4 separate regions of the Homo sapiens genome follow, and regions 1, 3 and 4 are each linked to region 2. Evidence: fine-mapped expression QTL. A gene starts in region 2. Each other region holds a variant in brackets. All regions are shown on one strand. Distances are between the middles of the regions.

Evidence for each region. PIP is the estimated chance that this variant, and not a neighbour inherited with it, causes the effect.
Region 1: its variant is fine-mapped to the expression of DENND1A in whole blood (INTERVAL, PIP above 0.99).
Region 3: its variant is fine-mapped to the expression of DENND1A in monocytes (Fairfax 2014, PIP 0.95). The same link has a PIP of 0.9 or more in monocytes after interferon gamma.
Region 4: its variant is fine-mapped to the expression of DENND1A in whole blood (INTERVAL, PIP above 0.99).

The regions. Positions count from the first base shown.
Region 1 is chr9:123,874,715-123,877,403 of GRCh38, forward strand. The region is part of intron 2 of DENND1A (DENN domain containing 1A); the gene reads right to left. Among named protein-coding and RNA genes, the nearest start is that of DENND1A, 54 kb to the right of the region's middle. The variant C/T (reference allele first, on the strand shown) is at 1,141.
Region 2 is chr9:123,928,592-123,931,280 of GRCh38, forward strand. DENND1A (DENN domain containing 1A) reads right to left here and starts at 1,535. Exons shown (of 24, transcript NM_001352964.2): 1 at 1,298-1,535. The coding sequence starts at 1,314. RefSeq lists enhancers at 392-471, 407-1,092, 722-921 and a silencer at 1,272-1,761.
Region 3 is chr9:123,401,141-123,403,829 of GRCh38, forward strand. It overlaps DENND1A (DENN domain containing 1A), which reads right to left. Exons shown (of 24, transcript NM_001352964.2): 21 at 2,262-2,350. MIR601 (microRNA 601) reads right to left here and starts at 1,463; the gene lies at 1,385-1,463. RefSeq lists an enhancer at 1,466-2,087. The variant GCA/G (reference allele first, on the strand shown) is at 1,102.
Region 4 is chr9:123,726,403-123,729,091 of GRCh38, forward strand. All of the region lies in intron 5 of DENND1A (DENN domain containing 1A), which reads right to left. Among named protein-coding and RNA genes, the nearest start is that of DENND1A, 200 kb to the right of the region's middle. The variant GA/G (reference allele first, on the strand shown) is at 1,312.

The DNA of each region.
Region 1 (2,689 bases), 54 kb before region 2:
AACAACAAGGAGATACTACTATATAACCATCAGGTTGGCAAAAGTCAAATCTAACTGTACCAAGGGCTGATGAAGTTGTAGAGCAGTAAGTGTAGACTACCAAACACTGCAGGTGGGAGTACAGACTGGCACAATCCATTTTGTAAAAGTATGGCATGATTCAGTAATCAAGTATGTTCTATATGGAAATGTATGTTTACATGTGCCAGGATTCATACGTAGGAAAGGTCACAGTAGCATGGCTTATAGTAGCCAAAAACTGCGAACAACTTCAAAGGTCAACAGTAGAATGGATAACTAAATTCTGAAATAATTCTATAGTACACTACACAGCAATGAAAATCTATGACTGCAGTTACACACAACACGGAAGACCCTTTCAAACATAATTGAGCAAAAAAGCAGCAGAGCTACATACAGAATAATTCCATTTCTATAAAATTCAGAAGGCGGCACAATTCAATTATATTTTTTCAATGAGGTATACTTATGTAGCAAAACTATGAAGAAAAACAAAGAGATGATTATCATAAAAGTCAGGATAGTAGTTACCTCTGAAGGCAGGGAGGGAGGGGCCTCTGGGGTGCTGGGCAAACCCACCTGTAACATTTACAGGGCTTAGGCAAGGGTTCAAATAGAGACCTACAGACCATACATCTGAATATTTAAATATTTAAAAGTTTTAAAACAAGCATACAAACTATTAAATATTTTCTATCCTCCTGCCATAATAAATATACCTTTACAACTGACTAGAAGGCCAGGTTCATATTGTGTTTTTGTATTTTGCATTCCATGGAGAAAAGCAGTGGTGCAGGGCAAATTGGCCATTGGCTCACTGCCCACAGCCCCCTCTCCATCCTGTACTGCAAGCTCTATCCCATACCCTATTCCCCACTGACAGCTATCCTTAGGCCACCCTTAGACCTAGGGATGTATACACCAGTAGCATAGTCCACTCCCAGGAGGACAGACCCCAGGGGAGAGACTCACACAGGCTCCAGAAACAAGCTCAAGGCCATTTGGGCAAGAAGTTCTGAGATGCTGGGTGCTCAAAGCATGGTCTAGGATGGAAGGGTTTAGTCTCCAAGTGACCATGTTCCGTAGGCCCCAGAGACTCCTTGCCCTGTGGAAAGGGCA[C/T]TGGTAGAGGAGGGACAAAGCAGATCCTTCTAAAGCATCAGGCCAAGGCAGGGGTCCCTCTTGCCAGGACCAGTATTTCTGAAGAACTGGATAACATTATATTTCTTAACCTGGATCATAATAACATGGTTACTCAATTTATACTTATTTGTTAAACTATACATATGTTTTATGTACTTTTTCACAAATAACAGGACAGATATCATGGTCTGCTTACTGGATGCACTGAAAAATACATAACACTTTTGAGATACTTTTACCAAAAACCAATAACCTGCATCTAATCATGAAGATCCAATCAGACAGATACAAATCCAGGAACTTTCTACAAAACAACAGACCCAAATTCTTCAAAAACATGTCAAAAAAGACAAAGAAAGGCTGTAAAAATTATTCTAGGCTGAAAGGAAGTAAACTGACATGAAAACTAAATGGACTGCATGATTCCGGATTGGATTCTGGGTCATAGGGAAAATGCTGTAAAGGACATGATATAACAATTGATTAAATTTAAATATGGACAACTGACATTATATCAATATTAAATTTTCTGATTTCAACCATTATACTAGGGGTATATAAGAATATGTCTTTATTCTTAGGAGATATATCCAGAATATCTCCTGGATATGCAGGGGTGAAGGGTCATAATGTCTGCAACTCACTCTTAAATGATCCAGCAATAATTCTGTGTGTGTATACTCACATGCACACATATGTGCTGTGTATGTATTGGGGGGGTGATAAAGCAAATGCAGCAAAATAATAACAATTGACAAATCTAAGGAAAGAGCATACGCACTGGACTGTCCTTGTAACTCTTAAAATAGTCTCAAAACAATTCATTCGATCCAGCAATCCCATTACCGAGTATATACCCAAAGGAAAATAAATCATATTAAAAAGATAACTGCATTCATATTTTTATAGAAGCACTATTTACAATAGCAAAGATACAGAATCAATATAAGTGTCCACCAATGGGCAATTGGATAAAGAAAATGTGGAATACTACTCAGCCATAAAAAAGAATGAAATAATGTCTTTTGCAGTTCCATGGATGGAACTGGAGGCCATTCTTTTAAGTGAAATAGAAAGTCAAATACAGCATGTTCTCACCTATAAGTGGGAACTAAATGATGTGTACACGTGGTCATAGAGTGTGGAATAATAGGCACTGGAGACTCAGAAGGGTGGGAGGGGCTGAGGGATAAGAAATTACTTAATGGGTACAATGTACACTATTCAGGTGATGGGTACACTAAAAGCCCAGACTTCACCACTATGCAATATATGCATGTAACACAACTGCTCTTGTAACCCCTAAACTTATACTAATTAAAAAATAAGGGCCAGGCGCGGTGGCTCACGCCTGTAAGTAATCCCAACACTTTGGGAGGCTGAGGCAGGCGGATAACGAGGTCAAGAGTTCGAGACAGCCTGGCCAACATAGTGAAACCCCGTCTCTACTAAAAATACAAAAAATTAGCCGGACGTGGTGGTGGGCACCTGTAATCCCAGCTACTTGGAAGGCTGAGGCAGAAGAATT
Region 2 (2,689 bases):
TACCATAAGCAAACTTTTCTAGTTTCATTCAGCAGATGTCTCAAGGCTGCTGCAGCGCATCTCATACATATTTTGTAAATGAGAAGCCTAACCACACGGGGGACTGCAAGGCTGGGCAAGGGTCACACTGCACGGGCATCACCTGGACATGAGATGCAATGTTTGAATAATTATTAGTTTCACCCTTAAGGCCCTTCTCCTTTCAAACTTCCCTAGTACAATTCTCAAAATGCTGAAATAAACACATTCCACAAACTTTCTTGTAAGAGGGTTTAAAGTGTCCTAGGAAAGTTGTTTTACAGAAAAGCCTATGCTGTCAACTTTGCTTTTTAATGCCCTTAAACAATTCTATTAGTCACAGAGGAAAAAGTGAACATTTGTTAGTAATTAGAGATAAAACATCTCCAGTTCTGGGGCAGAGGAAGGGAGAGGCCACAAGAGGACCTGGCTGGGAGGGGAGATAGAGTCGAAAGCCACACACCCAAATTGGACCGCTTAAGAGTTGCACTTTCCAAAGTCAACTTCTAAGTCTACAAGGACAGCAACAATGTTTCAGTGGATTCTGAAGTTACATGTATCAACAATTTCCCCGGAAAGCTAACCCTCCACCGGGAACTCCAGGTGAATGAATGAGTGAGGGAATTCGCCAGATTGAGTTACAAAGCCTTTCCAACGATTATCAAGAGCAGGTGCTCGGTTACAACACAGAGGTATCCTCCTTCACAGCCTTTGGACCTTGCTGCGTGGAGATTTTCACAGATAAGAGGGGGGAAATAGAGAGACAGGCCTTCCTCCCCGGCCATCCACACCTTAGGTGGCCACACCATGAGCGGCCCCTCCCTCTAAGAACCTCACGCGACTTCTGTGGGGGCCGCAGGCCTCAAGCGGCCAGGCTGCAACCTCTCCGGACCTGCCAACTTTCAGGGGCGCCCCAAACATGCCCAAACATGGGGAGGTGCTTCCGGGGCTTTCCCACTCCCCTTCCCCACAGTTGAAGGACCATTTTCAGGGGCTCTCCGTAAACCCGGGGAGGGGGCCGCCCTGTAATCTCAGCTGTTCCGACCCCCAGGTGAGGAGGGGACACCTGACCCCCGGCGCCCTGCCACCCCGCGCGCACCCCGCCCCCGCGCCTCCCTGGATCGCCATAGCAACCGTCCCCCTCCCCGCGTGCCGGCGTCACGCGGGGCGCCCCTCTGGTCTCGGCAACAAGTCCCCCGCGCGGCCCGCGGCCTGCAGCCCTGGCCCGGCCTCGCCGCCCCGCGCCCGGCCCGGCTCCGCCCGGCCCGGCCGCACTCACTTGATCCTGGAGCCCATGGTCCCCAGGCCTCCTCATGGGCCCGCGGGCCCCGCTCGGCGCTGCGCTGCCCGCCCGCCCGCGGCCGACCGGCCTCCCTCTGGCGCTCTCCCCGCCCCTTCCTCCCTTCCCTCAGGCTGGGGCCCGCCCGCTCGAGGCTCGCTCCCTCGCCGCCGCCGCCGCCTCCAGGGGTTAATGTACTCGCTCCAGCCCGGCGAACGCCATGGTCGCCGGCGCGCGTGCCCGGCGCGCGCCGCCCCCTCCGCCTCTCACCACCGCCCCTCCCGCCCGCGCTGCCGCCGCCGCTGCCCGCTGGGGCTGCTGGGAAGTGTAGTCCGCTCGCGGGGGCGGGGCCGTGGCCGGTGGGGGCGGGGCGGGAGCGCGGTCACCCGCACGTCTCCCAGGGCGCGGGCCCCGGAGGACTCTGGCGTTCCGTTGCAGGCCCTTACACATCTGCACCCCACTGCGCCCCGCTGGAAACCTCCACTCACAGCCGCCCTGAAGAGACCCTAATCCTCTCATGGAGACCCCAAGCCCTCCCGATGAAACCGCCACCAATCCTCCCATTGGAGGCCTCCCACCCAGCCTCTCTAACGGAGAGCTAATCCCCCGCCCAGGCCTCCATGAAAACACGTTTTCCCTTTAACATCCCGCACCTTCCAGTAAGTTCCGTGCAGAACCTCTTCTCCATCACACCGTCCACTTCCCCATCTGAAGGCCTTTCCTCTTCCTTTCCCCTTAGAGCTTGAAGGAGACCCCACATACCTACAGGAAAGCCACCTGGGGGCTTCGTGGACCCACGTGGTGGCTCAGCTCTGCCCTCCCGCTGAGGACCTCTGCCTCCCTTTATCAGCCGTTTTGGGAACTCCAACATCGAAGCCTCCTGTTAACACAACAGTCCCTGATAGAGATTAACTCAATGCAAATGAAAGGATTTGAGAGCCGAGATCACCAGCCTGCTACCTACCCCTGCTCCCCCTTGGGATTCACTTCCATGAACACCTCAATTTCATCCCCTCTAGGGCCAGAGGGATCATAAAGGAAGCAATAATCACAGCTACCATTAGCCACCCTTTAATGAGCGGGTGAGTGCCCTTTCTGCATCAGACACAGTATTTCCGTACATCATTAGTGCCAATCCTCACAATAATCCTGTGTTCATCTCCCTAATTTACAAAGAGGAAACTGAGCCACATTCCCAAGGTCACATAACTAGCAACGAGTGAAGAAGCCAAGATTAGTGTCCAGACTGAATCATTCCAGACACCTGTGACATAGTCATGCTTTAAGGTGGCACCTTTGGCCACAAGTCCAAAGACATTTTTAATATTAGGCTTTTTTTCCTTTTTTTTTTTTTTTTTCCAATTTTCTGTCCCGAAATGCCATTCATCACTT
Region 3 (2,689 bases), 530 kb before region 2:
AATGCCGACAGATTGGTGGAGCCGGTTTCTTCCCCCTCCCCCGAACAATATTTTATGAGGAGTCTGTTTTATTAAAATATTTTCCGCTGGATGCTTCCTGTGTTTCAAGAAGTTGGTCCTGCCAGCTGGAGCTGATGACAGTTGAGAAAAACACATCCAAGTGCTGTTGTGACATGGCATTTGGAAGGGGCGGAGCACAGTGGGGGGGTGGGGAAGCAGCATGGGAAGAGGCGTAGAAAAACACCCGGGTTGCACTAGAAATACCACTGGTATTATGGGAGAACAACTTCCCCTTCCTCGTTAAACAAACGTGAACAGAAACCCTTGGAATGATGTCCTGAAACGTACCCCTCTGTCTCCTTGTGGGCCCGAGCCACTGTGACGTACGCTCACAGAAAACCTGTCATTTGTTTTCTATCACTGGTAGTTTGCCAACCACCAAACTGGCTCCCATGCTCCCACTGGTTTATTTCAACCCCAAATATTTTCCAACAGAAGTAGAAAACAGGGCATATTAAACAAACAACAAACCAACCAACCAACAAAACTAAAAGTGATACTGACACAGTTCAGGTGATAAGCAGGAAAATGGGATTATCAGACACCGGCTCTTTGGCACACACTGCGAAGTCAGCCCCTCTGCCCAGTCTGGAAAAGCAACGGCGTAAGTCAATGTGATGAAGAGGTCCAGCCTCTCGTCGGGAACTTGGCCGCAAAATGGGTAATGCTTTTCTGTAGGATGTGGAGTGTAGCTGGTGTTGCAATGGTGTTTCTGTGTAATGCAAGAATATTCTGGGTTTACATCTCAATATCAACAGGCCTGTGACCCTGTATCCTGGTACAGTGTCTAAAAGGTTTAGTCCAGTTTTAAAGAGGGGACTTCAAAGAAATGTGACAAATTTCATCCCCTTAAGGAGGAATCTTTAGTCCGAGGCACTCAGGTGCCATGCAGCGTTCTCTCCATAAGGGGGCAATCATAATCCATCCCTCATGTTCCCACCAGGCTATTGTGCAGAGCAAAAGTTAAACTTAACCCAGCTTCAGGAGTCCTCTCTTCCAAATGTCTAATAACTGAGCATCCTTGTGTGCAAGCGCACACGT[GCA/G]CACACACACACACACACACGCACGCACACATATAATTCTGGAACTTTCTGGGCAAAGTCTGAGGGCTGTCTGGGTGGGCTGGTTCCTTAAAGACCGTACCCTCGCTATCAACCAGAAAATCCTGGAGAGCTGAAGTGAACTGCAACTTGGGTTAGGCCCCAGCTTGACAGCTCGAAATCATTTTTTTTCCTTCTTGCTCCAACTCTGACTGGGACCTGCCATGTCCCTTACCTTCTTTCCCATTTTCTGAGAGCCAGACAGACATGGGGGCCTCCCCCTTTCCACCCAAAGGACTTCAGGATCCCTGGGGTAGTTTTTCTGACTCCTCCAACAATCCTAGACCAAGACGAACTCATGCACTTTTTCAAGGCATCACAGGAAGTCAGCGTGTAGCCGCTGAGTTGTCTGGATAGAGACTGAGGGCTGTGCTCCTTTTGCGGACAAAGGGAAGCAGTGCTACCTTCTGCAGATGGCTCTGGTCTGGACTCGGGGCTATCTGCAGCCTTCTGCCTCACCCCACCACAGGCAGGTCCACTTCAGTCCACTGCTTGTCTTTCTGCCCCCCTCATTCACTTCATCTACCCCACGCCTCCTGAGCAGGTGACTCTAGGCCAGTCCTACGGGAGGTGCTGGGCATAACACCCAGGGAGCTCCGCGTCTCAGGGAGATGGGTAAGAAAAACCACAGTAACATAAATCCTCCGGCACAGGTGGGCAAAGGGTCCTGGTGGGTCTGGGGCAGTGGATGAGGGCAGTCCTGTATATAGGTTCTCGGCCATGGAGGCCTAGGAAGGTGGGTGGATCCAGTTCAACACTTGGCCTCCTTCACCAGGTTCTAACCCTCACCTACTGACTCGGCATCTTCAGCACAAGAGGCCTAGGACCTTCTTCTGAACCCAGCAAAGTATGCTTTGGACCCCACCCCTCGAAATCCAGCCCAAGTGCCCGGCTCCCTGGCCTCTGGGGCCTCCCACTGGTGTGACAACCAGACCGAGTAAAAGATCAAGTCCTGTTCCCTGAATGACCCCTTTGTGAAACACCCGCTGGGAGCCCCGGGGAAGCCTCACAAAGGCCGGGGCTACACGCTTGGGCTTCGCAAAGTGCTGGCTCCGCAGACACAGGGTTCTTACAGACAGAGGGGAGAGGCACAATACTCACTGCTCAGGGCTCGGCACAGACGTCCTCCGGCCTTCCACTGCGATGTTGCTCTTTGGTCTCTTAACAACATGTGGACGAGGTGGGCGCACCTAGAGGAGGTACAGGGGGAGAGCCCCAAGAAGGAGTGAGTTGGAAAAGCCATACAGGTACATTCTGAACATTTGGATAAACGGCCCCCCCAAAAAACGTTTAGGGATTTTCAAAGCTACAGGCTACAAAAGCCCAGCCTATCACAGAAACATCACCATCTAATAGGCAGCAGACAGACACATTAACTGGAATTCTGTGGCCTATTCAAATCAGAAGGGTGCTCCTGGAAAGCTCGGTTTCTTCATCTGCAAGATGAGGATAGTTCCATTGGCCTCCTTGCAGGGCTGTGGTGAGGGTCCAATGAGATGATGTCTACATAGGACCCGGAACAAAGAGGC
Region 4 (2,689 bases), 200 kb before region 2:
CATGCTGCCTCTCCCTATCACACGAACATACTTTAGCCATTCCAAAAATGACCATTTCCGAAATGCACCAGACCATGAAGTCCTTGAGGACAGGGATAGTGCTTTATTCACAGCTGAATCCCCAGTACACAGCACAGAGCATTAAAAAATGAATGAAGAGAATAGAGGGAGGAGCCTCTGGCTTTTACCAGTTGCTCACACACAAGCACCCACAATAGGTAGTGTGAAATTTGCTCCCTGGTATCATAGAAGAGGTATACAGTACTTGGGTAATTCTTAATAATGGTGAAAAAAACAGCAAGTGAAGAAAAGATCTTAAATATGGATTTTTAGCCTATGATCCAGAGACCACAGAAGGGGTTCTGTGAAAACCTATAATGTCTATAGAACTTTTTAAGGAAACCCACATAAACATTTTTTTGGAGACAGTTCCTGGAGCTTTCAGCAGACTTGCAAAGGTATCCTATCCTCCCAAAAAGTTTGCCTTCTAAGAGTCTTCTCCAATTTTATTGTCATGGGGCTGAGTGGGAAAGGCCAGGGACTCTGTGGTAGAGGGCTTATGTTCAAGTCATGTCCTCCAGGCAGTCATAGAACCTTGGTCAGGTGACTCTGAAGCTCAGTGTTGTCACGTGTAATTTACCCAGTTGTCACAAGATCTAAACGGGATGATCAGCATTAAAGTATTCAACACAATACCTTCTCTCTACTTGGCTAGTGTGTAAGGTATACAACAATAAAACATGAACAGGAGATGGTACAGAACCACTGAAGGAAATATAATGAGAGTACCAGCTGCTCTTCTTTTCCCAGAAAATGTTTTCTTGTTTAGTCATCTAAGAGAAAAGAGCCAGAAAACATCCACTTTTCCTGGAATGCCTACTACAGAGCCTCATTTATATCAAGCTAAAAGTTAATATCCATACTTCAAACTAGATTTTCTGAAGTAAAAGAAATTAAATGATATTCTCATAGGCAAAACAAAAGAAATTCTAAAACACCTATGACACTCAAGGAAAGAAACATGGATTCTGTCTCAAATCTAACCCACCTATCCAGAGAACAGCACTTTTCCGATCCTCCAGATGTATCCTTTGAAGCTACTTGCTTTGACATCATAATTACAAAATGGTGCAAGGGCTGTGAAATCATAAACAGATGATGACTCAAAGGACAAACATCAAGAAACAATCTTTTACTTGCTAAAGACCTTAAATGATAGGAAAACACCTTCAGAAAGCCAAGAATGAAAGTAATAAAAACTTAGTATTTAATTATTAGCTGTACCATTCATATTAGCACCAATAAGGGAAA[GA/G]AAAAAAAAAGGGAATAAATATTTAGGTATAAATCTAACAATACAGGTGTAGGAACTGTATGCCAAAAACCACAAAACACCAAAGAAAGAAATCAAAGAATCCCTAAATAGGCCAGGCGTGGTGGCTCATGCCTGTAATCCCAGCACTTTGGGAGGCTGAGGCAGGCAGATCATGAGGTCAGGAGATCGAGACCATCCTGGCTAACACAGTGAAACCCCATCTCTACTAAAAATACAAAATATTAGCCAGGCATTGTGGCAGGCTCCTGTAGTCCCAGTTACTCGGGAGGCTGAGGCAGGAGAATGGCATGAACCCAGAAGGCGGAGCTTGCAGTGAGCCAAGATCGCACCACTGCACTCCAGCCTGGGCAACAGAGTGAGACTCTGTCTCAAAAAAAAAAAAAGAATCCCTAAGTAGATGGAGAGATGTACTATGTTCATGGACTGAAAGACCCAAATATTGTAAAAAGGTTATCTTTGCAGCTGGGCGCAGTGGCTCACACCTGTAATCCCAGCACTTTGGGAGGCCAAGGCGGGCAGACAACCTGAGGTCAGGAGTGAGAGACTAGTCTGACCAACATGGAGAAACCCTGTCTCTACTAAAAATACAAAATTAGCCAGGCGTGGTGGCACATGCCTGTAATCCCAGCTACTCAGGAGGCTGAGGCAGGAGAACTGCTTGAACCCAGGAGGCAGAGGTTACAGTGAGCCGAGATCGTGCCATTGCACTCCTGCCTGGGCAACAATTGCAAAACTCTGTCTCCCAAAAAAAAAAAAAAAAAAAAAAAAAAAAAAACAGGCATCAGTCATCTTTACCCAAGTCATTTTATACATTCAATCCAATGTCAAACCAAATCACAGTGGGATTTTCTATAGCTATTAAAGGTCAAGAAACTAGAAGAGCAAAATTTATGTGGAAAAGCAAAGAAACTAGAATAGCTAAGACTATTTTAAAAATGAAAAACACAGCTGGAAGATTAATGCTATCTGATTTGAAGAATTACTATGATGCCACGATTAAGACAGTATAGTATTGATAGATACATAGATGCTACATCAGCATAATCCTGATACCAAAACCTGGCAGAGACACAACAAAAAAAGGAAATTTCAGGCCAATATCGCTGATGAACATCGATGCGAAAATCCTCAATAAAATACTGGCAAACCAAATCCAGCAGCACATTAAAAAGCTTATCCACCACGATCAAGTCAGCTTCATCCCTGGGATGCAAGGCTGGTTCAACATACACAAATCAATAAACGTAATCCATCACATAAACAGAACCAATGACAAAATCCACATGATTATCTTAACAGATGCAGAAAAGGCCTTCAACAAATTCAACCCCCCTACATGCTAAAAACACTCAATAA